3 separate regions of the Homo sapiens genome follow, and all the other regions are linked to region 2. Evidence: fine-mapped expression QTL. A gene starts in region 2. Each other region holds a variant in brackets. All regions are shown on one strand. Distances are from middle to middle.

Region 1 (10,715 bases), 120 kb before region 2:
ATTAATTAGTAAAAACTCATTTACAGGAAGTCATTCAAATTATGCACTAACTATATATTAACAATGGTTTTCATAGCCTTCTCTATTAGCAAACGGCCCCAGGATCCTTTTTCTTTATTAAGAGATGGTTCAAAGCAAGAAGAGAGAGAATGAGTGTCCTCCCCAAAGTGAAGAAATTAGCAGTTGATAAACTGAGATCCTTTAGACCTTTTTGGTTAGAGTTGTTGCCATTTACATATAGATTATCCAGAATTATTTCTCAGTCTGAAATGGAATAATAGATGGTGCATGAGTTGATGTGAATTCATTTATGAGTGTTTAGATAAACTTTCTGAATTATAAAGCGCCTGTTTAAAAAGGAACTAATCTAAATTAATATGCCTACTTTAAGATCTCCATTTTTATTTTCCCAAATGATTAATGAATTATTGAAACATATTCCTGGAGTTGACACATGGTTAACATTCCACTTTTAACCAAAAAAAATGTTAAAAAAAAAAAAAAAAACAAGAACGGGCTCTTTCTATCAACTTGGTCCACCTTACACGCAAACCTTTGTGGGTGGGTGTTTATTAATCCCTGTGGCCCAACACTCTCAGCCATCCTGAACTAACTCTACTTTCAAAAGGGCAGGACTCTGGGGGTGGGCTTTGCTCACTGGAATCCAGAGTTTCTGTTTGTGAAGGATGTTTTCTGGTTAATCTTATTATGAGGGTTAAACATTTCTATGGTCTATACCATGCCTTGAGGCCATGTGTTGGTGATACTCAAGGAATCATAGGATCTCTAGCATTCTATAGCTAATTGTTCAGCTCCAGGGGCTTTCTGAACCTCAACGCTGATTCTAAGTATTACAAATGAAGGGATGTAGGAAATCCAGACAAAATACATAAAGGTCATAAAATGTGACCTTTGTTCACTAAAAACAACTATTTTTGAGACCCTAATAGATGCTAGGCATAATTTTAGGTACTGGAGGATACAGAAGTTAAAAAAAAAAAAAAAGGATAAAAATCCTTTTCCTAAGGAGTTACATTATAATGAAGATACAAGAGATTCTGGTTTTGTTTTTAACTAATCCTAGAAACAAAGTATTTTGTTATGTGTGATTTGCCTTGTTCTATGAGTAGAACCAGGAAAACTTTCTGGGCCAAGGACTCTAAATTAATTCAGTCTGGCTAAGCTGCTGTGTGCATTAAGCAAGAGGCTCTACCCTGCTGAGAATCTGCCTAACCAGCTCCACTGCAGAACAGCAGTGATCACTTAACAGACACTCCTGGAGTCTGCCCATAAGCTCCCAGTAGAGTAGAAACTACTAGGGTCAACTTCTGACTTTACTGGCAAGCAGCTTCCCAATTGTGTTAGGATTATTTAAATGGGGATTATTCAAGAATTTGGAATTTTAGAAAACTATGAATGTGAAAGGGAGCATTATTACACAGGACTTTGAAAAATTAAATTGTAATCCTCTGTAAATAGGAATGTGCTATTTCAATCATGAAGGGTCCTGGTTCAAAAGTTTGCAATTTCATACTGTTTGCTGCAAAATCTTACATTGGATACTCTTTCATTAATCATGTCATTGGGATAAGAGTTTCAAATTACACATCCCTCAAACATCTGTGCTACAATGTGCTATTCAATCTGGCCCTTGCTACCTTTCTAAAGGCAGCTCGCACCACCCTTTTGAGCACAGACTGCAGGCACAATGGCCACTTGCTGTTCTTCCCACACCCCAAGCACACTCTTGCCTCAGTGTGTGGGCTGGACTGACTGCCTGCTCTGCCTGGAATGCACTTCTCCAGGTATCTGCATGGCTCCCTCCTTGGCTTCCTCCTGTAAAGGAGATCTTCCTTTTACTACACAATCCTCATCCTGCTTTACTTTTTTCCAGCGTTCTTACCAGCACCTGAAATAGTTAATGTATTGGCTTATTGTCAATTCACACTCTCCTTTTTCTTTTTTTTTTTTTTTTTTTTTGAGATGGAGTCTCGCTCTGTTGCCCAGGCTGGAGCACAGTGATGCGATGTTGGCTCACTGCAACCTCCACCTCCTGGGTTCAATCAATTCTCCTACGTCAGCCTTCCGAGTAGCTGGGATTACAGGCACCCATCACCATGCCTGGCTTATTTTTGTATTTTCAGTAGAGACAGGGTTTCACCATGCTGGTCAAGCTGGTCTCCAACTCCTAACCTCAGGTGATTCACCTGCCTCAGCCTCCCAAAGTGCTGGGATTACAGGCACCCATCACCATGCCTGGCTTATTTTTGTATTTTCAGTAGAGACAGGGTTTCACCATGCTGGTCAAGCTGGTCTCCAACTCCTAACCTCAGGTGATTCACCTGCCTCAGCCTCCCAAAGTGCTGGGATTACAGGCATGAGCCACTGCACCTGGCCCACTCTCTCTCTTTCAAATGGAAGATCCACAAGAATGGGAATTTAGTCTGCTTCTTTCACTGCTTTATCCCAGCATCTAAAACCAGCATCTCACAAGTTGTAGATACCCAATTATTTTATAATGAAGAAATCAATGAAGTGAAGAAAAATACAAAACTGGAATGTAAAACTATATATTTGGTATGAGCTCAGTTATTTACAATAGAGGCAAAAGAAAAAAAACCAACAACACTGGAAAAAAGGCCGAAGTGTTAACCTGCTTCTTCACATTTTTAGAATTTTAAAGGTTTTTAAAATCATTCATTACCCTTATGTTCATAAAATACAATGAAAGAGTAAAATAAGTAAGGTAAAAAGAGAAAAAACAAACACACTGCCACCTCATAACCTTAGTGCTCCAAGCTAAAGCCCATAGCCTGGGGTGGGTTCCAGGCCCCGCTCAACCCCTCCCTTCATTCTACCACCAGTCTAACTCATCACCCTTTAAGCTTTTAAGGAGCTGGGATTAGGATACTAGCCTTTATATTTTCCAAATCACTAATTAATATCTGATGCATACCAGACCTTGAGTAAATGCTTGCTTAATCAATTTATATTTTCAAGAGCTAACACAGCAAAGTGCTGGGCCTGCTTCTTCAACAGCCTTCTTATGAGAATACCTAACTCTATGTCCTACCAAGGCACACAAACTTTCAACAGCGAAAAAGCTCCCTTGATGATCTTTCTCCGTAAAAGGTTTTGGAGCTCCTCTCTTTCAAGCAAGACAGCTATCAAAGGCTTAGCCCCTGTTACCAGCTCCAGGGGATTTGGCATTAAAGGGATCAGTCTAGATCCAGCTTCAGACAATTTGGACTTGATTCATTAGCATTCACCCTTAGGCCTGTATCACCCACAGCTCTGTTTTATTAGTGGCATGAGGATATATCTCCCCTCCCTCGCAAGACTCAGGAGCTTCTGGGGGACAGGGCCCATTTTGTTCATTCTTAGCACCTGGAAATCAGCCTGGTCATGGGGCTGCCAGTGTATAGAAGCGGGTGCTTGGGAGTGCATGATAAATGAATGACTGAATTCACAGCCCCCCTAAGCCAAGTCTAGAGTTAAATTGTCCCCTCAGTTACTTAATGTTTTATTTCAGGAAAAGTCTTTTCTAAAAACATAGGCATTGGAAGGAGAAAAATTCCAACAGAGAAAATCTCTTG[G/T]GCTTCCCTTCCACTTAGGGGAAGCTACATAGTAGGAGGTAACAGGATAAGCCGATTCTCACCAAAAAGTACCCACCTGCAATATGAGGGACTCCTTATCCCCTTCTAGACGTGCCAAGCGTTCCTGGTAGGTTTCATTACTAGCAGCACTGTGGTGGTTTACCTGGGACTAAAGAGGACAGAAAAAAAAGAATACACTTAAAAGGTTGGAAAAACATCTTACCAACTTCTAAATGAAATAAGGGATGCATGTAATTTGTGAGGATAGTTTCACTGATTATATGTACAAAACCAATCATCAAAACAGGAAACCACAAGATTTCAAAACTACCATGAGGAGAACCAGATCACATGCCACTGAAAAGTGCGCCCTGGAAGTTGGCACAACCACCTCCTGGATGACCTCACTCCTGGCCAGGAGGGCCTCTGTGAAACTCTAGGCCCAGCAGTGCTTGACTTGACATGCTGGGTCTGGGTTAGCCAGAGGCACAGCCTCCAGAGGCATGGCGACAATGAGGGTCTGCTCTTTGAGGAGATTGGAGAGCTGGCACCGTTCTCCAAGGGACTACATGGGAACAGCTTCTGCACAGATCTTGGTATCTCCTAATTCTCATGCCAGGGTCCCCTGAAGCCAAGGCACACCTTGCTGCATGGAGGCCCATCCTGAACATCACAGTGAGCATGAAGGATGGAGGATGTCAACTACAAGGCCCTTCATTCACACGTCCCTTCCCACCCCAATCCCACCCTCCAATAAGAGCTTTGGTAGCCAGGCTGGCAGATCACATTTCCCCAGTGCTAGAGCTGAGAGAAGCAAGCTAAGACAAAACATCTTGAGAAGAACTTAAATAATAGCCAGAGGGATGCCAGAGCAAAAGCTAAGGAAATTACAGGTAGCCAGAAACTATAGAAAAGAGAGGAAAGGGAGAGGATGTGAAATGTCAGAGGAGAGGCAGAATCTTACAAATGTCCCAAGCAGAGAAAGGAGGTGTCACTTTCTTGGGTGTGTCTGACCTGGTTGTGGGCAGACAGGAGAGAAGGAGCTAATGTCACCAAGCTGGCCCCAACACCTCCTTCCTCCATGCAAATGGAAGACTGAAATCAGACTGGTCTGCAATAGGCCACCCAGAGGCTTGGCAGTTTGAAAAAGTAGATCTGATTGCTAAATGTGGAACTGAGTATTATACAATCTGAGCTGGTCCAGTGAAATCAGCACTTCAATATTCACGAGGGAGGTGTCTACCACCCTAGAGGAAAGTCTTAATTGTGCAAAGAGGCAGATGTGAGAGACCCAGAGTTGGGCCACCTTGTCCTAGGCCATTTCCCCACATTTCAACTTTTAGCATGGGCTCTCCCACCACCCTCCATGAGAAAAGGCACCTCCTTCCTCCCCTCATCCCACCCCTTCCCAATGCACTGCATAGGTGAGGGAGGCAACAGAGCCATGCCCAGTCCTAGAACAGAAATGTGGACCAAGCATACCGCATTCAAACCCTGGATGCGCACTAGTGAAAGATTCATTGATTGTTTGTTGAAGGTGCAGCCAGAGGACAGGCCCAGGGGCCACTCCCCAGGCCAGCTGTGCCAGGCAGCACCTGCTGCCACACCACTGTCTTCTGCTCCAGCCCCTCTGGAGCCTATGTCTTGTTCATTGTTATGGAAGCTCTTTCATGCCACAGACAAAGAACCTTAACAATCACAACTGACTTCTTTGTTAATGGCAGTTTATTGTTGTTAAATTAATATTCCGGTTCTCACATGATCAAATTCTCTGACTAGAATCCAAGAATATATTATAATCTATATTTTCTCAGAACCAGAGAAGAAAAGGTAGGAGAATAATTCTTAATAGCAGGTCAACTTCTTCTCTGTCAAAGAACTCACATGATGGTGATTTCCAGTGGACAGAGAATTAAACAGGACCCAGGTGTCCAAGTGAAGCTCTGCAGGTAGAACCCCAGTGCCGAAGTCCACATGGACACGGAGCCACCTAGCACTGGCAGCCGCCCATTCTCTGGCAGGAAATGAAGGAGAGAAGACCAAAGGCAAGACTTCTTCCAGAGACTCCAGCAAGCCACTGTACCAACTATGCCTTATTCAAATGGTGTGCAGTATATTCTTCATTATAATAAAAGGTCTACCCATACAATCACCCAGAGAGGTAACTATTTTTACTAGTTGACAAAAAAAAGAGTAAGAAAGTTGAAATCATAAATTCAGTTAATAAAATGTATGACCTAGATTCTATAGCACATGCTAGAAGGGGGATCAAAAATCTAGATCCACGCTAGCAGCCAGTAAAAAAAGAGAGGCACAATCAGTTAACAGGATCCGCAGATCAGTATGGTAAAATCAAATCAATTGCCTAGGAGAAGCATAATTATTCCGGAGCAAGGGAGAAACTTCACGTTTTCATAGACAGATTTTGTGTGATGGGATCAGCAATATCCATGACACCCTTATAGTAAACAGAGCCCAGTAGAACTCATTACTTTTGTGTGATGTTCTCAGAATAGTTCAGAGGCTAGTGGACAATATGGGCCAAAGGTGAAAGCAATTCCATGGAGACTAATATAATATGGTCCAGGCACAGTGCTGTAAATACACAGCAAGCACCTTGTGCTCAACATGTGCCAGGCACTGTTCAGAGCACTTTGACATAATGTTTGAGTTTCTTACAAAATGTTTCTATTGAGTAATTAAAATATATTTGAAAATCTAGAAGCACTGTTAGAGGACCTAGAACAGTGGTTCCTCATATTTGCCCCTCCTATAACAGATTCGAGGAGCCAACTCCTTTCCTAGCAGGCATACTGGTCCATACAGCAGTGGTGTGCATGGCAGACAGGTCCCTCCCCCACCCCAATCACTGTTCTAGAGGAACAGTGCATCTTCCTCTTCTACAGGTCCTTCAAAATCACCGTTCTCCAGCAAGCTTTTTAAAGGTAAACAGCAGTGAAAGATAATGTTCCAGATGGAAACCCACAGTATCACTATCCTTTGCTTTTGATGAAGTCAGAGCCATGTGTTTTCATGATCTATATAGGACTAGGATGTTAAAAAAAACTGCGTTCTTCAGAAGGGCATAGGCCAGGATCAAATGCCACCTCTGCCTGGAGAAAAACTTGGAAAGCATCTGAGAACAGGGCCAAGAAGAGGATTGTCTTGCTGAATGCTAATACTCATCAGCCTAAGGTAAGGATTTGCCTTTGGGTGAATCTGTATATTCTGTATTCTTATAACCTGGCAACAGGTTCAATCACGTTCTGGTATCATTCTTGCATTATAAAATGACTACATCATCAAGGCATAATAAGCTTTGTGGTTATCAAAATGGGATTCCAATTTATTGAGAAAAATATTTTAAAAGACTGAGTTAGGACACATCTCTGTTTTGCTCTACTTTAAAGACAGCTTGCTTGGTCAACAAGTATACCTGCTTCTTTAATAGTGGAATTGCAAATAGAAGGCTTGGATGGATAGTGGATCCCTGCATGATTCCAGGTTTGAGGTGTCTCTGAAAAGTCTTGTCCATGTTCCTGATTAGGTAAGTCAGCGATAGAGCAGTTGCCCAGCTCTCCACGCATGAAGTCAGGTTGCAAAAACCATGCCCACATTTCACAGAGAAGAAAGTCCAATCAAATTCTGAAGGATGCTACGTGCTAATTTTCTGAGGTTTTTTTTTTTTTGGGAGGGGGTTGTTCTTTTTGAGACAGAGTCTTGTTCTGTCACCAGGCTGGAGTGCAGTGGTGCGATCTAGGCTCACTGCAACCTCTGCCTCCTGGGTTCAAGCGATCCTCCTGCCTCAGCCTCTTGAGTAGCTGGGTCTACAGGCATGCACCACCATGCCCAGCTAATTTTTTGTATTTTTGGTAGAGATGGGGTTTCACCACGTTGGCCAGGATAGTCTCAATCTCTTGACCTTGTGATCTGCCCACCTTGGCCTCCCAAAGTGCTGAGATTACAGGCATGAGCCACCGTGCCTGGCCTACATGCTAATTTTCTATTGTTCCCCACTGTGGGATGGCAAGTGACTATAAAGGAGAGTATCATCCACCCCCGTTATACTTGTTAAGGATGCTCAATCCACAGATGAATATAAGAAAGAGCTAATTTTTACTCAACCAATGACATTAGCCACTAGGCTAGACCTGCCAATGGTAAGCTGTGTTACATATATTTGATCAAACTTCCTCCCCCTCTGTTCTGATGGTTATTGCTACAAATGTGACAGGGAAAAGTCAATCTTCTCATTCAAATTTTCAGACCATTCATTCAAATGGTCAGAGCTATTTCTGATACTGTAATTCAGGTTAGTTACCTAAAAATATAGTGAGAACCATGTGATCTGTGTGCCCTGTGGAGAACTGTTAACTCCAGACATTTCCACATCCTCTTCAATTTTGACTAAAGAATGCCACAGTGAAACATACTACCTCTCCTATATCACGGAACTGAATCAAGACAAGGGCTTCTCGAATGGATATTTTTAAGAACTCAGCACCCTTAGTCAAGATCATTGAAGCCAAGCCACCTTTGTGTCTATCAAGTGTTGCTCTCAAGAGGCTGAAAAAAGTCTTGGACACAAGGAATTCATCCTCTAAAATTCAGACCTCGCGGAGGCAAATATAAAACACAGCACAGAGTTGTCATATCAAGGTCTTCCCTAGGCCTTGGGAGTAATATTCCAGAGTGTCTTCAGAAACAGTGACAACACACCTCCTTGATTCTTACAGGTTATCCTAGGGTCTGTTTCTGTAAGACCCAAACTGCTACCACTGCCGTGGCTGGGCAAGCCTAATGTGCAGCTTGAGCAATTAACAGCCTAAGGTGTGGGTATTTTCTAAGCCATCCCTAACTGAGAGGGGCCTCAGGAAAATGTATCAGCTGTGCAGGGTATTCTATGGTTGGGATCCTGGAGTTGATCATGATAGTCAATCAGCCTCAGCAGGGAGAGGACAGAGAGAGAACTGTGAGTAGCCAGGAGGGAGAGGACTGACTGACCAGCAAGATTCCAGCAGGGATAGTTAAGTCCCCACATAAGGGGCAGTTTGGACCGTACAATGATACTAGCCTAACCTAAACCAGGTCCTGTCCCTACCTCTCCCATCCCTCCCCTTGGTCACTGAGTAAGAAATTTACTCTTGATAAGTTCCTCATGCACAGAGAGCTGGTTGCTGGCATACTCAAAGAAATCAAGATTTCTGCACCTTGGAGAACATTGCATTTTAGGGATGAGATTTTTCAGGGGATATGTCAGGTCCAAAAAAGAAACTTCACCATGAATTGTGGCGAACCCTAGATCAGCCAAATTGTTCCCCTTGTTTTCTTGCTAAGGAAAAGAAACAGAGAAGACTTGTATCAGTCTTGGCAGAGAATCAGCACCCTGCTTTAATGGAATCTATTGTTTGTGTAGACTAGGCTGAGATCATCGCCTTTACTGTAATTATGTGGTATAAATGAGGGCTGCCATCTTCTTAGAAAGATCCTCATCTCCCTGCCACTTGATCCAGGCTTGACTTGTTGAAATCCTTCCTCTGAATTTTTAAACTTGGGAACAGAGCATGGTAGTGGTGGTGCCACAGTTCTGAGGTTGTCAGTGGCCATGTCCTGCTCCACGTGGAAAAAGCTGGTTTGCAGCAAGAGACAGCTATGAACCCAGTGTGCACAGAAAAGCAAACAAAAGCCAAGAAAAAGACTGGAGGCATTCTCATCCCCGGTGCACGCTGCCTAAAGGCAGAGATATATTCCAGCCCTTCCTGTTGGTTCCCTCTTGGCCTAGTTCAAACTGAGTTTCTGTTATTTGCAACCAAAAGTTCTGGTTAATACATTTGTCTCAAAAGGTGATCAACTGACTAAAATTTACTCCTTTGGAAACAGACTTGTAGGAAAGAATTCCTGCTATTTGGATATAGTTCTGAATTGCAAAGGAATTCTGCCACTATTGCTTGATTTGCTTAAAGTGGCAATTTTTAAGACAGGGCTGTCAGTCCTAAGCCAACTATAGTTCAAACCAGGATTATCATCAGGGGCTAATTGAGATCTACTTTGTGGCACAGGGAGTGTCTGTGTGGGATGTACTAGGATAAAAAGGGCACTCAGTGTCCTTTGTGTGTGGAATAGATGGCTTTCTATCCACCACCTGTTTGCTTCCATTCTTATTTCCCATGTAGAGCAAAAAGGTTAAGACAGGGAATGAATACAAGATGCAACAGGCCCATGGGCATCAACCGGGGTTGGTGGAGGTGGGGAGCAGGATGTGTGATATGAAAAAGTAAGTTCAAACAAAACAAGAAATAAACAGGAGCTAAAGTCTAAAAGATATTATCAGAAAATGAATCAGAAAATGAATAAATGAAGGGTAAATAACAGAAATAGATCTAACAACTGTTTAAGAAGTTATGTCGAAAGAATTACATGTCAGACACAGCTGTACAAATGCCAGGTCTGGGCGCTGGGAGGCTGAGAGCTCTGGGTTCCCTGTTCCCCTCATTTGGCCCAGCTGAACTTCAAGTCAGGGGATCCCTGGGGACTTTCTTGTGGTGCTTCCATATTCATTTACAGAATTCCTATTGCATCCTCCTCCCCAAGGGACCACCTTCTCTGCAGAAAGAGGACAAACCAAGAATAATTAGGAGGCTGGGGCTGCACCTAACCATGTGTAATCTCAAGTAGGTTACCTCATCTCAGGCTTTCCATCCTTTCAATAGAAAAAATCATGCTTCACGGAGCAACAGAAAGGGTCAAGTTAGGTCAGCATACCTGAAAACGTGTGGCACTAAAACTACAGAGTGCTCTTTATAGTAGGGTGCTCTAAAAATTCCTGTGTGATATAAACAGTTTTTGAATAATCATAGGAATATGGAAATGATTTTTAAATTATAATTTAACAAATGAATTTAGCTAACTTATAAATGATTTAGCTTTGTTTAATCTAAAAGACCAACATTCAGTTAGAAGCATGAGTTAGAAGGCATCATTTAATGCCTTCTACAAAAAGTTTTAATTAATTCACTCTTTTTGTGTAAGAGAACAACAGGGGCAATATTTCTGATCAGGATGCCTAAGAAATATCTATGAAGATCTGTACAAACAACCCAAGGGAACAATAACCAAAAT
Region 2 (10,715 bases):
TTGACTTATTCTTTCCTTTCTACCAGGAGGAGGTGTCATGAGAACCACTAGCTGTTGTGAAAGTTTGGCATTAGCCTATGGATGAGCTGGGAGACCCTAATGACAGAGGCTTAGTCAAAATTTCTGGACTTCAGGGCTGGCTCCTGATCCTCTGAGGCCTTGTGGGCCATCTTTAATCTTTGTTGTTAATCCTTCCCAGGCCCAGAGCTCCTGGACACAAGTGGGAAGACACCAGGGAGTGAGGTGACAGAGGTGATCACGCAGCTAGTTGAATTTTGCAGCCCATATGCCCAGGGATCCCAGCAGCAAGTGACAAGTCTTTTGAGTGGAAGAAGGAAGTGGGTTCCTGCCATAGTCCTTGGGAGAAGCTTGATCTGTTCTCTTGGGAGACTGAGCAAAGAGAGCTTTATATCAGGGACACTGGAAGCAGGTCTGTGGCACTGCTCAGAGCTTGCTCCTTCCTTCCTTCCTTCCTTCCTTCCTTCCTTCCTTCCTTCCTTCCTTCCTTCCTTCCTTCCCTTCCTTCCCTTCCTTCCCTTCCTTCCCTTCCTCCCTCCCTCTTTTTCTTTCTTTCTCTATCTCTTTCTCTCTCTCTTGCTTGCTTGCTCACTCGCTTTTTCTTCCTCCAAAAGAACAGAGACTATTTTTGCCTCACATTCATCCTGGGCTTAGGGATGAAGACCAGGGCTCTCTCCTGCAGCTCCTAGATTGCCAATGTTCTCTTTTCCCATTTGCCTTGGAAGTTGTCCTGTAAGTCTTCCTTGGGGTACTTTCTTGACTTGTGGGACTTTTTTTCCAATTATTTTCTTTTCCTCAGTTTTCTATTTCACTTCTTCCATGAAGGTCAGCCTATCTTGGAATGCACTTGATAGAAAGTAGAATAGTGGGGCTGGGCGTGGTGGCTCATGCCTGTAATCCCAACACTTGGGAAGGCCAAGGCGGGTGGATCACCTGAGGTCAGGAGTTCGAAGCCAGCCTGGCCAACATGGCAAAACCCTGTCTCTACTAAAAATACACAAAAATTAGCTGGGTGTGGTGGTGGGCGCCTGTAATCCCAGCTATTCAGGAGGCTGAGGCAGGAGAATTGCTTGAACCTGGGAGGCGGAGGTTGCAGTGAGCCGAGATTGTGCCACTGCACTCCAGCCTGAAGTGGAGCGAAAATCCATCTCAAAAAAAAAAAAAAAAAAAAAAGAAAGAAAGAAAGAACGAACAAAGAATAGTGTATGCTATCCCAGAAAGGCCCCATTCATAACATGCCTCTCCTCTTGAAAGCTGATCTCAGAGACATACCAGCATTTCCTGAACATTGCCAAAGGCTTGACTCTGTCTTAGATGATCCCAAAGCAACACCTCTATAGCTGCGGAAGTGTCCACGGTGATTGCCAAAGGATACTGAGGGGTGTCCTTCCTCTTTGGTCCCGAGAGAGGACTGAAGAAGGAAGAGTCAGGAATTCCCATTAGAGAGAAAACCTGAGTCTCAGAGGAGTTTCACTGGCCACTCAGCCTCTGGTTGTGGTCTGTGCCAGCAACCAACTCAGGACTCCTGTGTGAGAGAGATACTCTTTGTAAGGATGTGGAAGGGCACAGTAAGCAACAGGTGAGCCTTCTTCTCTGGGTTGAGTTTGAATGGCAATACCAGAGGCTGGGCACTCCTAAGCTAGACACCCTCAATAGTCCCAGGTGGCTATCAGTGAAGTGGGTGGCCAGGGGCAGCTAAGTGGCCTGCAGAATTATCAGGAGCCACATACAGGCAGTAGACATTGTTTTTGGCTATATTCACATCCATATTAGTGTCCTTTTCTCAGTTCATTAAATTACTTTGCATAAAATTGTTTTCATTGAAAGTTCATAAGCACTGTATCAGTCAGAATCGGTTGCTTTTCTTTAGCTTATACTGTTTAACTGTCCAGTTTAGCTCTTCCCTTCTTCTCTACCCCTTATTACTCATTGCATTCTCCATGTGTGTTGAGCATTCGATGTGCTTTTAAAATGACAGCTACCTAGGAAGCCCTTTAACTCATTAACCTCCCCACTCCCACTCCCATCCCCACTTTCTCCAAAGATGGCCCTGATGAGCCACACCTTCTCGTATTCCATTCTTGTGTAATTTCTTTCCCGTTGAATCTGGGCTGATTCAAGATTATGACTTGCTCTTGACCCTAGTATGTGGCAGAAATGACTCTAGGTTCCTTTAGAACTTACTTAACAGAACCTTGTAGCATCTAGCTGGACCACTTGCAATGCTAGCTCTGGAGGAAGCCAGTCACTTTATCAGAACACTATCTTGAGATGTCCCTGTGGTGAGGAAGCCCGAACTAACCATATGGAGAGACTATGTGGAGAGAGATGTCCAGCCATTCTGCAGCTGTTCCAGTTATCTCAATTCCAGAGCCAGATGTGAGTGAAGAAGCCATTATGGACATCCATCCGAGGCAGGCATTCAGATGATGCCAGCCCCAGATGCCATCTGAGAGCAACCATGAGACTGCAGGGGAGAGCATCAACTAAGCTCAGTCAACTCAGATAATCATGAGAGACAATATATTTCTATTTAAGCCACTATGTTTTGGTGCTTTGTCATGCAGCAGTAAGTCATTGGAATGTCCCCCCTCCCACCCCCCGCATTGCAGGACAGGGTGGCCATGAAAATAGCAAGCCATTTTCCATACCTATCCTTTGTCAGTCTCCCTGACTCAAGTGTAAAATAAATAATTATTTTCTTCTCATCATATGAAATGTAGTTCTACTGATGGCCATGTGAACTAAACAATACCTTTTTTTTTTCTTTTTTAGAGAGACAGGGCCTTGCTCTGTCACCCAGGCTGAAATGCAGTGTTGCAATCTTGGCTCGCTGTAGCCTCAAGCTCTTGGACTCAGGCGATTCTCCTATCTCAGCTTCCTAAGTAGCTGGGACTACAGGTACATTGCTAATTTTTTAAAAATTAGCCGGGGGGGCGGGGGGTCTCTTTTGAAATTAGATGGTGGTCTCTCCATGTTGCCAGACTGGTCTTGAACTTCTGGTATCAAGTGATCCTCCCGCCTTGGCCTCCCAAAGTGCTGAGATTACAGGTGTGAGTCACTGCACCCAGCCCTAAATCATACCATTTAGAGTCATGATTGTTGGAGAATTTTGAAAACATCTGCATTGTAGAAACCTTTCCCCTCCCCTCCCTGACCCTTGCTCCTGTCATGTACCAGTGTACTTCCTGGACATCAAAGTGCCTGCTGCATATGTCCAACTCACTGGCTGGGAGGGTGCTTCAGCAGCAACACACATCAAGGGCAGGTCTCCTTGAAGCCAACAGAAGTAAGAGGAAGGGGCTGAGAATCAGTGCCAGTTGGGTGGGGGGACACCTGGCCTCTCCCTCTCTCGGCACCAGCTTTTCCCAAGGTCTGATCAGAATGTTTCCTTTCTACTGCCATGTCCATTTTTTCATGGTATTTTAATTTCCTTCTTTATCCTGGAAAAGACATTGGAGAATCCCCTTCCCCCAAGTTAAATAAGACAAGGTTGGAGTTTTTCAAAAGGAGCATTTACTAGGAAACTAAAGGGCAACCAAACAGAATGCAAGAGAACAGAGGCAGAGTTGCAAATGGGCTGAGGGAGTTCAAATTTATAACCAGCCTCTGCTCACAGCTGTACTGGCTAGGCAAAGCTTTCCAGACACAAAGCCACCTGCCTGCCATGTGGATAGTACTCTTTGCCTGCTTGCCCCTACAAAGCCACCTTCTATTTCATACCAATAAGCCAGTTGCATCCTCATTAGTATCCCAAGGCTGCTGGCTCTCTGGGCAGGAAGCTTCTGAGGTGGGGAACAGTAGGCACAGCTGCCTCAGGATCTCCAACCCAGGCTTCCATTGCCAAGGACATGTCAGAATTTATTGGGATTGCTGCCTGATATCTATTGGAGCCAGTCTGCTTTCTCTGGGACCATTCTTCTGGGCTCATCTGCCTAGCTTTACAGACAATATTTCTGCTAACTATCCTGGTGGCGCTAGCCCTTCATGTTTTGCTTCTAAACACTGGTATGGTGGAGGATGTCTGAATGAGGAGGGATGAGCAGAGGGGAACCTTGAGCAGAGGAAGCCAAGTTTTCCTTATGTCATCAGACATAGGCAGAACCTTGGATTCTCTTTGAATCCCAGTGGTTGGAAGCCAATCAGAGAAGTGAAGCTTGAATGTAATGACACTGCTTCCTACAAACAAAGGCCTATAGCCTTCTTAGATCTGCCATCAAAGTAGAGCTTCTTGTATAGTACTAGGCAGCTGGGGCAATGAGAACTTTCTGAAGACGTATAACGATCCTTCCTCCGCCCAGTTAGTTCCATGCTGAAATGTTAATTCAAACAGAGATAATGAGCTTTCCAGGAAGGTAAACTACAATCCAACTCTGGATTCTGCTGTAAAGAGATTGTGTGAAAAGAAAAATACTATCTTGGAGTAGTGGTGCAAATGTGTGGATGGGGTGCCTTGCACCTATAATGGGACAGAGAGGACCATTAGGTAACAGCCCCCAGTCCTCCCAGGATATGCTGAGGCCTTTGGTTTCATTTACGTGGAGGCAGAAGCAATGAGGATGAGGCGCATAGCTGGCCATTGGTTGGCAGACTTGGTCAGGAAGGAAGCTGAGTAATGAATGAGATGCCTGGGGAGGGCCCTTGACCTTCACTCTTGTAGGTATTTCCATCCCCAAGTGGTGTGAAAGTGATGTATGTGTCTGAAGTGAGAAGGAAACCTCTATGTGTGGTTGCCCAAGGCTATGACTCTGGGCTGTTGCATATGGAAATACCCCAGAAGGCATTCAGGCCAGAGAAGCCCAAAAGCTGTGCCTTTCTATAGGGGATGGCTGTGTTCTCTCTCCATGATCTCATCTCACCCATTGCTGTACCAGTTTCTGAGGCTGTTCCCTTAGTGGACGAATGTGCCTAGGAAAGGATATTCCACAATGCTCATGCCACTGAGATGTATGCCCTTCTAACTAATTACTTTTCATTCTAATAACACTCCCAGTTGAAAGGAAGGGGCTGCTAGCTACTGAGTGAGTAGTGTTGGGGGTCTCTGATTCCTCAAAATCTGGTTTTAGCAGAAAACAGGGCCATGTTGATACTGGTACTCTCTACCACGTGCATGGGAGGAGGCAGTGAATTTGCTGTGAACTAGCCCTCCTTGCATTAGATTTTTTCCAGGGAACAGCCTGCTTGTCTTGGTATTCTCTTGGGGCTATTCCTTGCAAATCTGGAGCACTTCTTGGGGCACAGTTATTTTCTGGAGACAGTCATTAGCTCAAAGGTAGTCATGTGTGAATTGAGATCTGCTGCCTATTTAGCACCTGGATATATTTTTAAATATTCTGTCCTTCCAGGGCATTCTAGAAAATAATATTATGTTGGAATAACGATTTCCAGGGCAGATGCTATGTCCTCATCACCAAGGGCTTCATATGAAACATTGAGTCCTGGTACTCTTGGTACTGTCACTATATCTATCATTTGTTTTTGTTCATAGTCCGATCTTGGTTCTTGGCATGAGAGACATGCTTCCCTGCAGCACATCACCTTGGGCCACCTGCAGAAGGTGGCTGGACCATTCAGGTTCACCAAACCCAATCTGGAAAGAAGGCCAGTTAGTGCTGTGGTTACAGCTGAGCATTTGGTCACTGAAATCGTCTGGATGTTGCTGGATGGAAAAAGTTACTTAAGATCTTTGTGAGATGGTTGTCCTATTTTGTCCTTGGCACAAGCAGTCCTCTTACCCATGGTCATCGTTTCTGCAGGAAGAAAAAACAAAAAAATAATTTGGCTTTCATTCATACATTTTTTTTCTTTTTTTTTTTTTTTTGAGACAGAGTCTTGCTCTGTCACCCAGGCTGGAGTGCAGTGGCGCGATCTTGGCTCACTGCAACCTCCGCCTCCTGGGTTCAAGCAATTCTCCTGCCTCAGCCTCCCAAGTAGCTGGGATTACAGGTGCCCGCCGCCACACCTGGCTAATTTTTGTATTTTTAGTAGAGACAGGGTGTCACCATGTTGGCCAGGCTGGGCTCGAACTCCTGACCTTGTGATCTGCCTGCCTCGGCCTCCCAAAGTGGTGGGATTACAGGCGTGAGTCACTGTGCCTGGCCCATTCATACATTTTTAATGTGCACCAAACAAGTGCCAGGCATGGTAATAGATGCTGGGGATACTAAGCCCATAAGTAGGACACTCCCCCTGCTTTCAAAGGGCTCACAGATGGAGATATTATGATGTGAGAAGCTGCATAGAATACTGCAGGGGCAATGGGAAGGGAGAAAGTAACTTCAAAGGGATTGAGGAGGTCTATAGAGAGCATTCTGATTGATGAGTCTTGAGCTAAGCCATTTAGGCTGAAGAGGAATCCCTCTGGAAAGAAGAAGGGTCACTTGGGGTAGAGGAAAGAGACTGTGCAAAGGCAGAATGCAATAAAGGGCATGGTGCATTGAAGGAATCATCACAATTTGGTGTGACTGGACTGTAGTGTGAGGAATGAAGTGGTCGGAGGTAAGGCTGGTGATATGATTTAGTTGTGCCCCCACCCAAATCTCAACTTGAGTTGTACCTCCCAGACTTCCCACGTGTTGTGGGAAGGGACCCGGCAGGGGAGGTAATTGAATCATGGGGGCCGGTCTTCCCCGTGCTGTTCTTGTGATAGTGAATAAGTCTCACGAGATCTGATGGGTTTATCAGGGGTTTCTGCTTTTGCTTCTTCCTCATTTTCTCTTGCTGCTGCCATGTAAGAAGTGCCTTTTGCCTCCTGCCATGATTCTGAGGCCTCCCCAGCCATGTGGAACTGTAAGTCCAGTTAAACCTCTTTTTCTTCCCACTCTCGGATATGTCTTTGTCAGCAGCGTGAAAATGGACTAATACAGCTGGGATGGAAAGATGAGGTCTGAGTGGTGCAACATCATTCCTTGTTTCCGAGATGTGAAGGAGGGGCTCTCTTAAGGAAGCCCCAGACTTAGACTAGCAGTATCTCTTGTGTTTCACACTCAGCCCAGCATTCAACTTAATTTAAACTCAGGGCACCTTCCAGCACAGATTAAATGTAGTAATACTGTGGCCATAGAGAGAAAAAACTGAAGTGACTTCTATGGATATAGGAATAACAAAATTTACACGTAAACTATAAAAGAGTAGCAACCATTCTGACAATGAAATTTATGGACTTCATTTCAGAGATCAAAAGTTCACATGTGAGGCTATAACTTACTTAAGGAAAGTATTAAAAGCCAGTGTGTTCACTGCAAAGGGAAACCACGTTTGATTGTGACCCGTGGCTTTGAAGTGTGTGCATGTGTGTGGGCACACACACACATCTCTGGGAAAGGGGTCTTTGTTTCTGTGTCTAGGAAGAAAGACTGAATGATATTTGTCTTAATATTGTGGTTCAAATATCAGTTTGCCAGATCAGCTGCTACCCTGGAGCACCATCCAAATAGCTCTACTTTCGTTTTTTTTGAGATGGAGTCTTGCTCTGTCCCCAGGCTGGAGTGCAGTGGCGCAATCTCGACTCACTGCAAGCTCCACCTCCCGGGTTCATGCCATTCTCCTGCCTCAGCCTCCTGAGTAGCTGGGACTACAGGCGCCCGCCACCACGCCCGGCTAATTTTTTTTTTTTGTATTTTTAGTAGAGACGGGGTTTCACTGTGTTAGCCATGATGGTCTTGATCTCCTGACCTCGTGATCCGCCCGCCTCGGCCTCCCAAAGTACTGGGATTACAGGCGTGAGCCACCGCGCCTGGCCCCGAATAGCTCTACTTTCTAAGCCACCATCTACATCAGGCCCGTGGTTCCCTAGCCGCTCTTTCAACTGTGAAACCCATACCCATATCAGTTTGCCAATTCCTGAGTTCCTTCCCATCAGAGAAAGCAAATTGTTAACAGGCTCAGTGTCACCAATGAATGTGGTCTGGAATTAGTTGTGATGGTATCAGCCCATATTCCTTCATTTTTGGGTACTTATTGTATGCCAGGCACTGGGATATGGACTTTACAAGTTCTTAAAAGACCCCGTGGGGTTCTTTAATGGAGGATGCAGCGTTGTAGAGACACTAATTTGCACAAGGCCACACTGTGACTAAGTGTCAGAGCTGAGATTTAAACCCAAGACTTCCAATTTCAAAGTCCAAGCTTTAGCAATTATGTCAATTCCCTCTGTAGGTCCAGTCTACATTTCTGATGTATTAAAAGTACTTTATCTGCCTTGGCTTTCTAGACTCCCTAAATCTAGCCAGATGAGCTTCCTTTAAGAACCCTAGTCCAAACTAGTAGCATACAGCAGGTGCCACATCCCACTTATGGTTTCCTAGCTGCTTATCCCATTTCTCTGGATTCCCCCAGCTAGTGACATGCATATGTATCTTGTTTGCCCCCACAGTTCTGTGCACAACCTCATTTTTCCCTATTATGACCTAATTTTACCTCTTCATTTAAGCAGTTCCTTCAGAATGCTTTGGGTTTAGCTCTCCCAAAGTACCCAGCCTTAGGGACCACCTCTGTACCTGATTTCTTATGGCCTGTCTAAAGCCTGCTTAGAGGGCTAGGCTGCAACCTTAGCCAATTTTTTTTACCAGTCCCCATACCCAGGGATACCACTAGCATTGGCATTGTTGCCAATGGCCAAGTCATAGCACAGCTCCCACCTGAACTCCATAGCTGGGTTTTGCTCATTTGGTGAATTTCCTTGTGTGTGTAATTAGCCAGAATCAAGGTCAGCCTCTGGAAATACGGCGGTGCAGCCTACTGGTCTCCCCCTTCTTAAGGTGCAGCCCTTCACTTGGGTGAGTTTTCTGGGCTCTGAATCTTTTCCTCTTCTGGACAGCGCCACTAAGGTCCTAGAATGCTTGTGAGCTGGGACCAAGCCCACAAGATGACAGGATTAAGGAGTTTCAATACATCTGGTGTCGTGATAGGGTCATTGCTACCAGCAATATTGCAAGAAAAGCCTCTTGAAAACAAACTTATTCTAGGGAAAGTCAAGCATACAAGTCAGTTCTGAAAAAGTTGTCTCAGGAGAAGACATGAGTAAATTTTGCTGTTGTTGTTCAGCCCCCTTTTGTCTGGCTTCTGTTGGGGGAAGACTAGAAAATCTCAACCAAATCAAACAAAATAAGCAAATTACACCTTTCCAAACTCCTATAACCTAGTGAGCTGTTTTTCAGCCAAAAATTGTATAAAACAAAATGTGAGAAAAGAAAGATTTTTCCATAATTCAGAAAAGCATTGACCCAGTGGGATTTTGTTGAGAGGAAGGTGGTAGAGACTCAGTCATCAACACCGGAGACAGTAACGGTGGTTTAATAACTGTTGAGCATAATGCTAGCTTGGCTGGTTCCAGTGCTGGTGCCAGCCCCATTTCCATGGGCAGAAGCAGCAGTGTCCTTGTTATGAGACCTGGTGGGCTCCCAGGCAGTACCAGGGGTTTAGAAGGTACCAACAACTCCAGTAGTATCAACAGGAAGTAGTGGTTACAATCCTATCTGAACAGAGAAGATTGTAAGTGAATTCAATTGTCCTGAGACATAAGGATCTAATTTGAATTAAATTGAATTGAAACCAAAGATGAGAACTGTCCTAATGAAAACTGTAATGTGAAGTGACATTTCGATCACAAAAATGACAGCTGATATGAGACAGGCCATTGAAACAGACCCCAAATTAAGAACATGAAAAGACAGAGTGAAACATTAGATAATATCTCTCTGTGAATCTGAAAATGGGACTTTATTACAGGAAGTACCTAAGGGCTCTGAACTAAGAAGCTTGTCAAAAATGGAAGTGATTCTTATTACATGATTTAATCTTATTATGTACTTAATATTGTTAAATTTACATTTAAAATTTTATTTAAAAAGCACAAAAATCTCAGGATTTTGTTGACTATTTATTGCTTACCACAGCTTTGCAAATATATGAAGATTCATCATGCTCTGCTGGTTTAGAATCTGATTTTGTTGACTGTTGCTTAGCACAGCTTTACAAATATATGAAAAATTATCACGCGCTGCCAGTTTACAATCTGATTAGCTTCTTTCTGTAAAGAGGACATTCTATTTTTTTTTTACTTCCTCTCTCGGCTTTAAGAACAAGTATGTTAAAGAAATAAAGCAGTATGAATGTGACTATACTGCCTTTCAGGAGATTGGGCCAGTAGCATGGAAAAATGAAAGGGTCCATTTGGGCAACAACTACTATTTATTGAGTGCTTAAGCACTAGCTCTATCCTAAGAGCTTTGCATACCTTATCTCATTCATGCCTCACCTTAACCCTCTGTGATAGATATTACAATTACAGTTTCACAGTGAGGTAACTGAGTCTGAAAAAGGCCAAATAATAAAGGTAGTAAATGGCAGAGCCAGAATCTGCCACCATGCTTTTATGGATTAAAATGTATGCTCTTAAGTGCTATGCCCAGAATGGTAAATTATTGTGCTTTGAATGGTAACTCCACTACAGCACCTTTCTAGAAAGGATTCTTAGTCCAGAAATGAATTCTGAACAGTCCAGACTTCACAGGAGAGTGTGTTAAGATTCACCGTCAAGTAGACCTTGAGGGGAAAGGTGGCAAATGGTGCGTGGCATGTGTGACATGTAGATTGTTATTTACTGAGAGGGGCTCATTAGAAACAATCAAGAAGCAAAGGCTACAGTGAAGGCACCATTCAGAAGGTAAGACAAGGACTGTCATATTTTTCGATGA
Region 3 (10,715 bases), 12 kb after region 2:
TTATAAGAATATTAGATATATTATTAATCCTTACCACAATCCTCTGAGGCAGGTACTTTTATTCCTGTTCTACAGATGAGAAAATCAAGGTACAGACAAGTTAGTGACTGCTTCGTCAAGTGTGTTAGTTTCTTAGGGTTGCCATAATGACGTATCACAAACTGGATGGCTGAAAATAACAGAACTTTATTGTCTCACAGTTCTAGAGGCTAGAAGTCTGAAGTCAAGGTACCAGTGGGCCCATGCTTTCTCTGAAAGCTCTTGGGGAGAAGTCTTCCCTGCCTCTTCCTAGCTCTTAGTGGTTGCCAGCAATCCTTCGCTTATAGCTGCATCACTCCAATTCCTGCCTCCATTGTCACATGGCAGTCTCCTGTATGTCCCTCTAGGTCTTTATATGGCTTTCCTATAAGGACACTAGTCATGGGATTTGGTGCCTACCCTGATCCAGCATAAGCTCATCTTAACATGCCTGCAAAGACCTTATTTCCAAATAAGGTGACATTCTGAGGTTCTAGGTAGATGTAAATTTTGGGAGGACACTATTCAAACCAGTACCCCACCAATATCCAGCACATTGGTAAACCCAATGTCAGTTCTTAATCTTCATTTTATTTACATCTTATTTGTCACATCTGGGCATTCCCTCTTCCTGGAAACAATTTCTTTCTTGCCTTCTAGGATACCAAACCCTCTTGGTTTTCTTACTACTTCAATGACTTGCTCCTTCTCAGTCTATCGGTTTCTCTTCTTTTCTTTACCTTTAAATAGAATGTCCCAGTTCTTAGTCCTGGGACCTCTTCTCTTTACCATTTACATCTCATCCATTTTTACAGCCTGATCTTTCTCTGGAACTCTAGATTCCTGCATCTAACTGCTATTTTATGTTTTCCTATGGATATCCAATAGTTGCTTCAAACCTATTAGGTCTAACTCCTGATCATCCCACATAGGTGCTCTACCTGCAGTCTTCCTGAGCTCACTTAATGGCAGCTCTATCTTTCCACGGTCAACCTTGGAATCATCCTTTACTTTTCTCTCTCATACCCTACAGAAAACCCTATTGGGTCTCCCTTCAAAATATACCCAGAATGTAACCATTTCTCACCATGTTCCTTGCTTCTACACTGTCCAAGCCTCTGTTATTGCCATCTAGATTATAGCAGTAGACTCCTAATGGGTATTCTCACGTCCAACCTTGTCATTATCTAGTCTATTCTCAACACAGCAGCAGAGAGATCAGTGATAACTTTGGATCATGTCACATCTCTCTTAAAAATTGCCATGTTGGCGAATGAGCCAAAGTACTTTTGAAGCTCTACTGGGTTCCAGTTACCTGAGCTCTGCCCGCTGTTACCTTTCTGATCTCATCCCCTACTTCTCTCTCTTTTTTCTCTCCTGCATCCCCCACATTACTCTCCTCACTATCCTCGTGTGAACCTCCTTAAGGCCTTTGTATTGGCCGTTCCCTTAGCGTGTATTTCTGCATGGCCACAGGGCTTGCTCCCTCACCTCCTTCAAGTGTTTGCTCAAATATTGCAATTGTTTGTGAGCCCTACAATTACCTCCATTAAAATTAACCCCCTGTAAAAAGTAAACAATCTATGTCACACTTCTGATCCCCATTGCTTGCTCTATTAAATTAAATTAATTAATTAATTTTTTTGAGATGGAGTCTCACTCTTGTTGCCCAGGCTGGAGTGCAGTAGCATGATCTCGGCTCACTGCAACCTCTGCCTCCCAGGTTCAAGTGACTCTCCTGCCTCAGCCTTTTGAGTGGCTGGGATTACAGGCGACCGCCACCATGCCCGGCTAATTTTTGTACTTTTAGTAGAGAAGGGGTTTTGCCATGTTGGTCAGTCTAGTCTCGAACTCCTGACCTCAGGTGATCCGCCCATCACAGCCTCCCAAAGCGCTGGGATTACAGGTGTGCGCCACCGCACCCGGCCCTATTTTATTCTTCATAGCATTTACCTTCACTATAACATAATACATCTGTGTCTCCCACTAGTCAAGTTTCACTAGAGCAAAGATTTTTGACTATTTTGTCCCTAAAAATGTATCTTCAGCACCTATAGTAGGTATTCAATCAATATTTGTTGAACAAATAAATACATCCTTGAAACTCCCATTTCCTTATGCAAAGTGATTGTTTCAAAGGAAGCTTGATTGATTCTTACTTGAACAGAATTCTTACAATACAGCAAATGATGCCATACAGTGAAGCACCTTGAAAGATTGCTGGGATAAGCTGACAGCATGGCAGCCAAAATAGTGACCCCAGGCTTGCAGGAATTCTGTGCTTTCTGGAGGAAATGGTCATGGGTTTCCCAACCTGCCTTTTAAACTAAGGTAAGTCTCTTATAAAGACCTTTATGAGAACTGTTTGAGCCCTCATGACACTGCAAATCCATCTGAGATGATGACTGGGACCTTCACTGCCACTGTCTTCATTCTCATGGGTGTTGCCTGGCTCTTTGGCATTCAGAGCTAGCTCTCAGTTGCTTTGGTGCATTAATAGAACCACTATGCCTGTAGATTTGAAGAAAAATTGACATGGAGAATTTATCTAAGAAATCAGTAAGTAAAACTTGTAAAAATCATTTTACAAGTTGTAAGATAGAAGAAATTGAAATTCTGTCCAACAAGAACTTATTCAATGCTGACTTTGTGCCAGGCATTTTGCCAGGTGCTTGTTATACAATGATGAATAACACTTAGGCCCATTCTCAAGGAGCAGTGGGAGGTGCTGGGGATGACACACACACAGATAATATCAAGTGGCACCAAATGCTATGTCAGGGGCAGGCACAGGGTGCTAGGAGAGGATAGCACAGACGAGAAGCATTTAGCTCATACCACAGGATCTTCAGAATGCTTCCTGAAGAAGCTGACAACTGATTAGATGCTAAAAAGACAGGCTGGATCTAGGCAGGAAAAGAGGGGTTGAAAGGACAGCACAAGAAAAAGTTAAAGCAGAAGCAAGGGCATGGGGGTGAATAGAAAGCACTGTGTGAACCACCAGCCATTAGGTGTGGCCCCAACATAAAGTATAAGGAGGAGATGGAGGCAGGGTCGCAGAGGACCTTGAATGCCAAGGTAGGGAACTCGATCTTGATCTTGTTCAGAATGAAGGGCAGTTATTGAAGGATTTTTAAGTGGGAGAGTTACATGCTCAGATTTGTACTTTAGTACTTGAAGGAGTGTAGAGGTTGGATTGAAAACAAATAAGAGAGTCAGAAAACCAGAATTGAGTGATAGTATGGGATCAGCTGAAGCACCCCTCTTGCCTTGACAGATCTCACTGAGCCTGGCCCTGTGGAATTACTGGTGAGTGAGGATGGGAAGGAGGTCGTTGCCTTTAGCACTTGAGAACTCTAGGTGGCTGGTCCCAAAACAGGACGGGGCTGTTTAAATTTAGCATTTCCTGAATAGGGACCAATGGAGTTCTGAAAAAATAAGTCAAAAATATAAATACCAAAGAGATAATGAATGAAGAGTCATATATTTATCACCCACTCTCAACTGACCCTAAACTTTAGTGAACAATAAAATGGACATTAGATCTGTTCACCTGTGAACTTGATTTCAGGATATCACCATTACCACTTATGGAGGGTGGCCATTTTCTGGCTAAAGAGCAAGATCCCAAGGTCCTCTAGCTCTCATTTGCCTGACATGGGGAAGACACTGGAGGGAGGTGTAACCAGCCTGCTGCATGTGCAGGCAGCTTGCCTCTCTCCTCTGGGTGCCTCCACCCACTGTGAGGAGCTGTGTGCAGACTGTACCTTGTTTTAATCCTCCCTTGAGTACTTACACACTGACCAGCCCCCTCCTGCCTCCTGACTATTGCATACTGGAAACTTCTCCATGATCAGAGAGCAAAAGCTCAATTGCCATGTTTAGTAAAAGGTCTGCAGTAAGTCCAAATCAACTAAAAATAGTCAATTTAGTGGGTACTGACAGACCCTATGCCCCAGACCTAAAGAGTTCACATCAGGAGAGAAGACAGATGTATCCAACTAACTACAAAATAAAAATGAGAGGTGGTAAGTGGTAAATGTATAATCAAATACAATCTAAATACAATCAAACTATTAAGGGAGTACTTCATTCCAAATGGGGCATTGCTCACTAGAAACTTCATGGAGGAGGTGGCACCTAAAATGAACCCTGAGGATTATGTAGGACTTTTAGACAGTGGGTGACTTCCTTCTTGGGCACCTGCTGGGATCAGCCCCATCTGACTGGATGGTGATACTTGCTTTAGCAGACATGACCCAGGGAAAGGCCATTTTTGCCCAGAATTTACACAGGTCACAAAGAGCAGCTGTAGAATGCATAGCCTATTGTGATACCATGAGGGACTAAGTACCAACCCCATGAAGTCCTCAAGCAGGGGCCTTCACCCCTTTCCCAGGACCTTCACGTTCTCCTTTCTTTCTCCAATGGTGATTTACAGATGTGTTTTTCT[G/C]TATTTGGGAAAAAGTCTCAGAATTAGCTTAAATGAGCCAGGGACAATGGCTCATGTCTAAATCCCAGAACTTTGGGAGGCCGAGGTGGGTGGATCACTTGGATCCAGGAGTACAGGACCAGCCTGGGCAACATGGTAAAACCCCATCTCTACAAAAAAAAAAAATACAAAAATTAACCAGGCGTGGTGGCGGGTGCCTGTAGTCCCAGCTACTTGGGAGGCTGAGGTAGGAGAATCGCTTGAGCCCAGGAGGCAGAGGCTGCAGTGAGCCGAGATGGCGCCACTGCAGTCCAGCCTGGATGACAGAGCAAGAATCTGTCTCAAAAAAAAAAAAAAAAATAGCTTAAACATTGGAATGTTGTATGGAATATACACATCTAATAGGTTGAATAGAACTTCATTTTGAAAAGTCAATTAAATGTGTGCTAATTTTAGAAAATGTATTGTCTTGCAGCTTGCTTTTTTTTTCTCAGTGAAAGAGACAGAAACAAAGGCCCTTAAATGTGTTTGAAAAGAGGATACAAGATAAGAAACTTTCTTTTATCCTTAAAGGTTTAGAGGCTTTTATTGATATGTTATTAATAATATTAAGATTTTTGGCACTATTCCAACTATTAGCTTTTCATCTCAAAGATACTCACAATGTCAAAACAAATAAAACCTATTAGCTGAATTCGTTTTCTCTCATCTGTGTATCTGCTGTCCTCTATACACTGTGGCTGATAGTAGGCCACGGCATGTATCTCTCAGCCATGCTGTTAGCATTGGGCCTTTGTGTGACTTAGAAACAGAAGCCTCCTCCAGGCAAACTCACCACTTGGTGAGTGGAGAGAAAGCTGACTTTGAGCTGACTTTAGCTTCACACATCTCCTCATCCTGGCACCCTAGTGAAGAAACCACCTGCAAGACAGTGTGTTGGGGTGCTGGGGAAACAGCTCTTTGGGGAGGTATCAGGGGCCTTAGGTTATTAAAGGTAATGCCCAGGTCCAATCTCAGAATGAGAGGCTGTGTTATTCTGCATAACAATGTAAAATGTGTTCCCCGTAGGCAGTTTCCTATTGGCAGAGACAATTATGATATTAGATGGATGTTTCTTTCCCTGGCTATAGAATTTTTAATTTCAGTTACTCGCATTGTCTTCACTCGTGTTATCCCCAGCCCTTAGGAAATCTTCATTAAATGCTATAGTCTGGCATTTGCATGCTTTGGGGGAATGGGGAAAGGGACTGTGTCCGTGCTTGGGATAGGATGTGGGGATAGGGCAGGGAGAAGATGGTGGCTGGGAGAAGCAGCTGAAGGCCTCTAAAGATGGCTGTAGAGAAGCCTGGAGTGCAGCAGAGAGCGGAAATGGTAAGCATCATCTGGAATCATGAGATGCAAAAAAGACCATTCCTCAGGCCACTGCAGAGACAAATGGGAGGAAGACATCAACTAAGGGCTAGAGAGAAAGGGTGGGGACTCAGGGTATTTGAGTATTAAAATGAAGGGTGATTCTGGGAGCTGGAGGCTTGGACTCTCATCAAGGGCTGGAAATCAGGTAGGTAGCAAGGAAAGGAAAGAAAAGTGACTGGGGAGCAGCAATGTCAGAAAAGGGGCGACTCACCTGGACTTAGGGATTGGTATCCTGCCCTGTGGGGAAGCTGAGCCCTCTTGGCCAGCTGGGAGCCTCTGGCCTGTCAAACAAGAGGAGACCACAGAGGGTGCCTGCTGAAGGAGACTGGGCTTAAGGCCTCTTCCCTGGTGCTCCTGAGGAGGGCGACTGAGATCTGAACTTAGGGGCCATGCCCTCTGCGCCCTGGCCTGACTCCCTTTCGGCCTCCTCTCCTACAACTCTACCTCTCGTTGCTCATGGTCCTGGCCACACCTGCCTCCTCTCTACTTCTGGACAGGCCACGCTGGTCCTTGCTCCAGAGATGCATGCTGGCCATCTGCTCTGTGATGGAAATGCACTTCTCAGGCCTCTGCTTGGCTGTCTGCTTCTGGTCAGTCAGGGAAAGTGTCATTTTCTCAGGGCCTTCCCCAGCCACCCAGCACAAAGGAGTGCCCCATCACTGCTGTCACATCTTGCCTTTGTATTTGCATCGTCCAGCTTGTGATGACCTATTTTCTGTTCAACTGTATGCAATTTGCCTGTCTCCCTCCACCAGAATGCAACCTCCACGGCACAGGGGTCCCCACTCACTGCCTTGCTCAACACCTTATTCCCAGTGTTGGGAATAGCATGTGGCATATGGCGGGGCTCAGTAAACACTGGCTGAATGAATGTGTGCATGCTAGAGACCAGGACAACTGAAGATGGTCATGGGAACTGATGATAGATAAGCCAATGGCTGGCTCCTAGGGGTTACAGAAACACTTTGGAGTATCTTCCCAGCTTGTACTGACAGTACCCACTCCTCCCCATAGTGGGCACGCCACCATGCCTGGCTAATTTTTGTTATATTTGTAAAGACGGAGGTCTCAGTATGTCTCCCAGGCTGGTCTAGAACTCCTGAGCTCAAGCAATCCATCCGCCTTAGGCACCCAAAGTGCTGGGATTACAGGCATGAGCCACGGTGCCCGGCCTCATTTTATTCTTTAAAGGAGTTTCAGGGCCGGGCGCGGTGGCTCACACCTGTAATCCCAGCACTTTGGGAGGCCGAGGCAGGGGGATCATCTCAGGTCGGGAGTTCGGGAGCAGCCTGACCAACATGAAGAAACCCCGTCTCTACTAAAAATACAAAATTAGCTGGGCGTGGTGGTGCATGACTGTAATCCCAGCTACTCGGGAGGCTGAGGCAGGAGAATCATTTGAACCCAGGAGGCGGAGGTTGTGGTGAGCCGAGATCGCATCATTGCACTCCAGCCTACGCAACAAGAGCAAAACCTCACCTCATAAAAAGGAGTTTGGGTTAGGTTTTCTGTTCCTAGAAGCCCAAAGCATTCTACTTGACTCAGGGTGTGATAACTGTCCCGTTCAAAGCTCTCTGGGCAACTGGCTCCATTGCTATCTTGTATGGAATTTATGTTCTGCTCTAAGGACCAGTCTCTCTGAAAGGAGTATGGGTAAGGCAAAAATAAAAACAAAAGCACTCTGGAAGGGAAGGGGACGTTCAGAGCTGTCCTAATGGACAGACCAGGAGCAACATGTGGAAACCCCAGTGAGATCATTTTGACCGTATAGAAGCAAAACTTTGTCAAAAATTAGAACTTCTTCAGAGCAGCCTCTCAAGACATTGCACAAGAGGATGAGAGAAGATTGCCTTTGAAATGGCCCCAACTTACGTACCTACACCTCTGTGGGAAAGAAGCAGTGGACAGAGTCAGAGAGCAGCTTTTCTGAGTGAGGAGAACTGCAGGGAACAGAATCAGGAGTGAGAAGGCCTCTGGGAGCCAGGACATTCTTATCTAATACTTGAGGCCAATGTGGCAACAAGCAGAAGTGCTTGTGAGTAGATTTTCTACATGTTAATTACTTAAGATTACTATACTTTTGATTTATTTTACACTTGAATTTGATTTCTTATCATTGTTTGTTTTTCCTCAGTGTGTGTGTGTGTGTGTGTGTGTGTGTGTTTTAAATATAAACCTCTATTAATGCTGTCAGTTCTGTCTTACTTAGTGACCCTTGATTGCTCATTCACATTTTAAAATTAACCACTGGGTATTTTGTGTATTTTTTCTCTGCTTTTGTGTGTGCAGACTAATTTTCTAGCTATCTCTTTCTCTAGAGTTGGAATCCAACCAGCAGCAATGTCAGATTTGTTGTTGTCGGTCATGAGGTACATGCTAGTCCCTTGCAAGGAACAGTTTCAGGCACAGCTGGATCCAGAGGTTCAGACAGTGTCATCAGGACTCATTATCACCTTCTCTACTTCTCAAGTATGCTTTCTTTTGTTTCACTCCATCCCGGAGTGCACTCTATTATTTTGATGGTGAGATAGCAGCCAACAACCCCACATTTGCATCCTCACAGCTTCAAGTCCAGTGGAAAGATGTGACTTTTCCGGATAGTTCCAACAAAATTCCTGGGCCTAAATTGGGTCACACACTCACCCCGAACCAATCCCTGAATGTGATGATTGGGCTTAAGCCTGGGGAGATGCAAAGACATTCCTGGAGCTGAGGATGTGGATGCCTCTACCCAAACCACATGGTTAGAGGGGGAAGAGGGGTGAGTCCTCAAAGGAAAATGTGGTTCTTTTATCTGAAGAGGAGAAGAAAAGCTGCATAAGCAAAGTCATACATTTTCACTTCAGGCCTTTTCAAGCTAAGATAGCGAGGGAAATTATGTTCTGCTTTGGGGGAGTAAAATCTTTGCAAATACAACATTTAGTCTTAACAGAATGCAACATTTAAAAACACATCTGTGGGAAAACCACACAGAACACAGCATGCCTTCTAAAGTAAAAAAGAGTATTCCATTAGCTTTCAGAGTTTTAAAAACAAAGGGCTTTCTGTTAATAAATTTTAGTGCATATTATTCAGTGCATGTCCTATGTCCTACTGGGTTTAGAAATTATGGTTATTTTGAAGCATTTGATTAGGTGGGGAGGAAACATCAGAAGCAAAACAACTGAAAGTACATTAGCAAAAAACCTACATCACAAATCATTTGGGAATGTGAAGTCATAAAGGATGATGAATCGGTGCCAGCAGGATGGAAACAAAAGAATTTTCTTAAAAATTCTAAGGCATTGTTCTAGTTTTAATTGTTAAGTGAGCTGAATAATAACAGCTGAGAAAGAAAAGTCTTTTAAAACCAGCATTACTGTGTGATCCCGACACTGACCATGTCAGAAACTGATTGTGCTCTGACTGGTATAGCTGTGTCTTCAAAGCCGCTTGACCAGCACAGATGTGAGGTTGAGAGGTTTGCTGACATGTGTCGGCATGTGTAAAACTTTTTCCAGGGAGAGGGCAAGAGAAGGAAAAGAAAAGTTAAACTGGAATTCCAGTAGGTTGTGAGATTCATCTTGATGATAAAATAATGAAGAGAGAAAGCCTTTCCTAACAGGTGGAGAGAAGTAAGTCCGCATTTGGACCCAAATAAGCTTGGTAGCTATGTCCAACAGGCAGAGATGGAGGAACACTGTGAGTTTAAATCTGTATTTTGTCAGCTTTTCTTACAATAACAACTCCAAATCTTAGTTGCTTACAACAATACACACTAATTTCTTGCTGATGAGTTTGTGGTTGGCTGCAGCTCTGCCAGACAGGTAGAAATCTACTTCTGCGTCTTCTTGTTCCAGGACCGAGCTGAAGAAGCCCCCGTCTTCCAGCGCATGTTATTCCCATGACAGATGCTAAAAGTTCAAGGGGGTGAGTAGAAACATGTGGAACTGGCATGTTGTCATCCTTTCATATTCTATTGATTGAAGCAAATCCCAGGCCCGAGTCCTAAGTCATTGGAGTCAAGACCCTGACAAGAGTGTGCTGGGGCATATAACCATGAAGAAATAATACCATCTACCTTAATCTGATAGCTCGGCCAGTTATTTGCCTCATGATGTTGGATAAATTAGTTAAGCCTCAGCTTCTTTTATCTGGGGAGACAAAACTGTTTACTTCACAGGGTGAGAGTTAAACTGGGGATGCCTGTACAGCACTGAGCACAGTGGTCTGGATAGAGTAGAAAATGTAACATTGGATTATTATTCATCGGAGGGATCATATTACAGGCAAAGCATGCCTGCTTGGGAGGCGGGCAATGACTGGCATCGGGGAGAAGGCAGACAGGAGTTGAGAAGTTAGCTGGGCACAGGGGAGGGGGTGGTAGTTGGGCAGGCAGGAGAGGGTTTAAGGTGGTGGGAAGAGCAGGGGCCCACCAGACCCAATGCTCACAAACACTGGGGAATGGACGAATAAATGGGTACATGAGGAGAGACAGTTCAGGCCCTCTCTCAAACAACTCTAGGAGAACAGCTGGTCTGAGGATGGCTGTGGCTTTATTTTCTAGGATAGCCTGGTCACCTTGCTTCCTGTGGGTGAAGCAGACTTTGCCCCTTGAGATCAAACCTGGCAGGCTGTGCTTTCCACACCCCCAGTCCAGTTGCTTTTCTTGTCCCTACTGTCATCATATCCTGCCCTGTACTTCCCCTTCTCCAAACCAGCCCCCACTTCCACTGTCTCCAGCCTTCCTCTGGTGCTCCACACCTACCTCCCCTACATCCTTAATCCTTCATGTAAACTTTCTATCCACTTTCTCACTTCAACTGAATCCTGGTTCTCTTTTGAAGTCACAACACTTTCTTTGTAGCACTCT

What was found. PIP is the estimated chance that this variant, and not a neighbour inherited with it, causes the effect. A credible set is the group of variants that fine-mapping cannot tell apart.
Region 1: its variant is the best candidate, but not a certain one, in a credible set for the expression of SYT9-AS1 in whole blood (GTEx, PIP 0.50).
Region 3: its variant is the best candidate, but not a certain one, in a credible set for the expression of SYT9-AS1 in blood mononuclear cells (TOPMed, PIP 0.56).

What each region holds. Positions count from the first base shown.
Region 1 is chr11:7,586,182-7,596,896 of GRCh38, reverse strand. It overlaps PPFIBP2 (PPFIB scaffold protein 2), which reads right to left. Exons shown (of 24, transcript NM_003621.5): 4 at 3,673-3,765. LOC105376535 (a long non-coding RNA gene) reads left to right here. Exons shown (of 4, transcript XR_007062579.1): 2 at 6,503-6,791. Among named protein-coding and RNA genes, the nearest start is that of PPFIBP2, 78 kb to the right of the region's middle. The variant G/T (reference allele first, on the strand shown) is at 3,597.
Region 2 is chr11:7,461,845-7,472,559 of GRCh38, reverse strand. SYT9-AS1 (SYT9 antisense RNA 1) reads left to right here and starts at 6,725. Exons shown (of 5, transcript NR_103855.1): 1 at 6,725-6,807. SYT9 (synaptotagmin 9) reads right to left here. Exons shown (of 7, transcript NM_175733.4): 7 at 3,517-5,768. The coding sequence ends at 5,760. RefSeq lists an enhancer at 4,579-4,638.
Region 3 is chr11:7,449,430-7,460,144 of GRCh38, reverse strand. All of the region lies in intron 6 of SYT9 (synaptotagmin 9), which reads right to left. It overlaps SYT9-AS1 (SYT9 antisense RNA 1), which reads left to right. Exons shown (of 5, transcript NR_103855.1): 3 at 2,186-2,349; 4 at 9,703-9,772. Among named protein-coding and RNA genes, the nearest start is that of SYT9-AS1, 11 kb to the left of the region's middle. RefSeq lists an enhancer at 8,070-8,581. The variant G/C (reference allele first, on the strand shown) is at 4,472.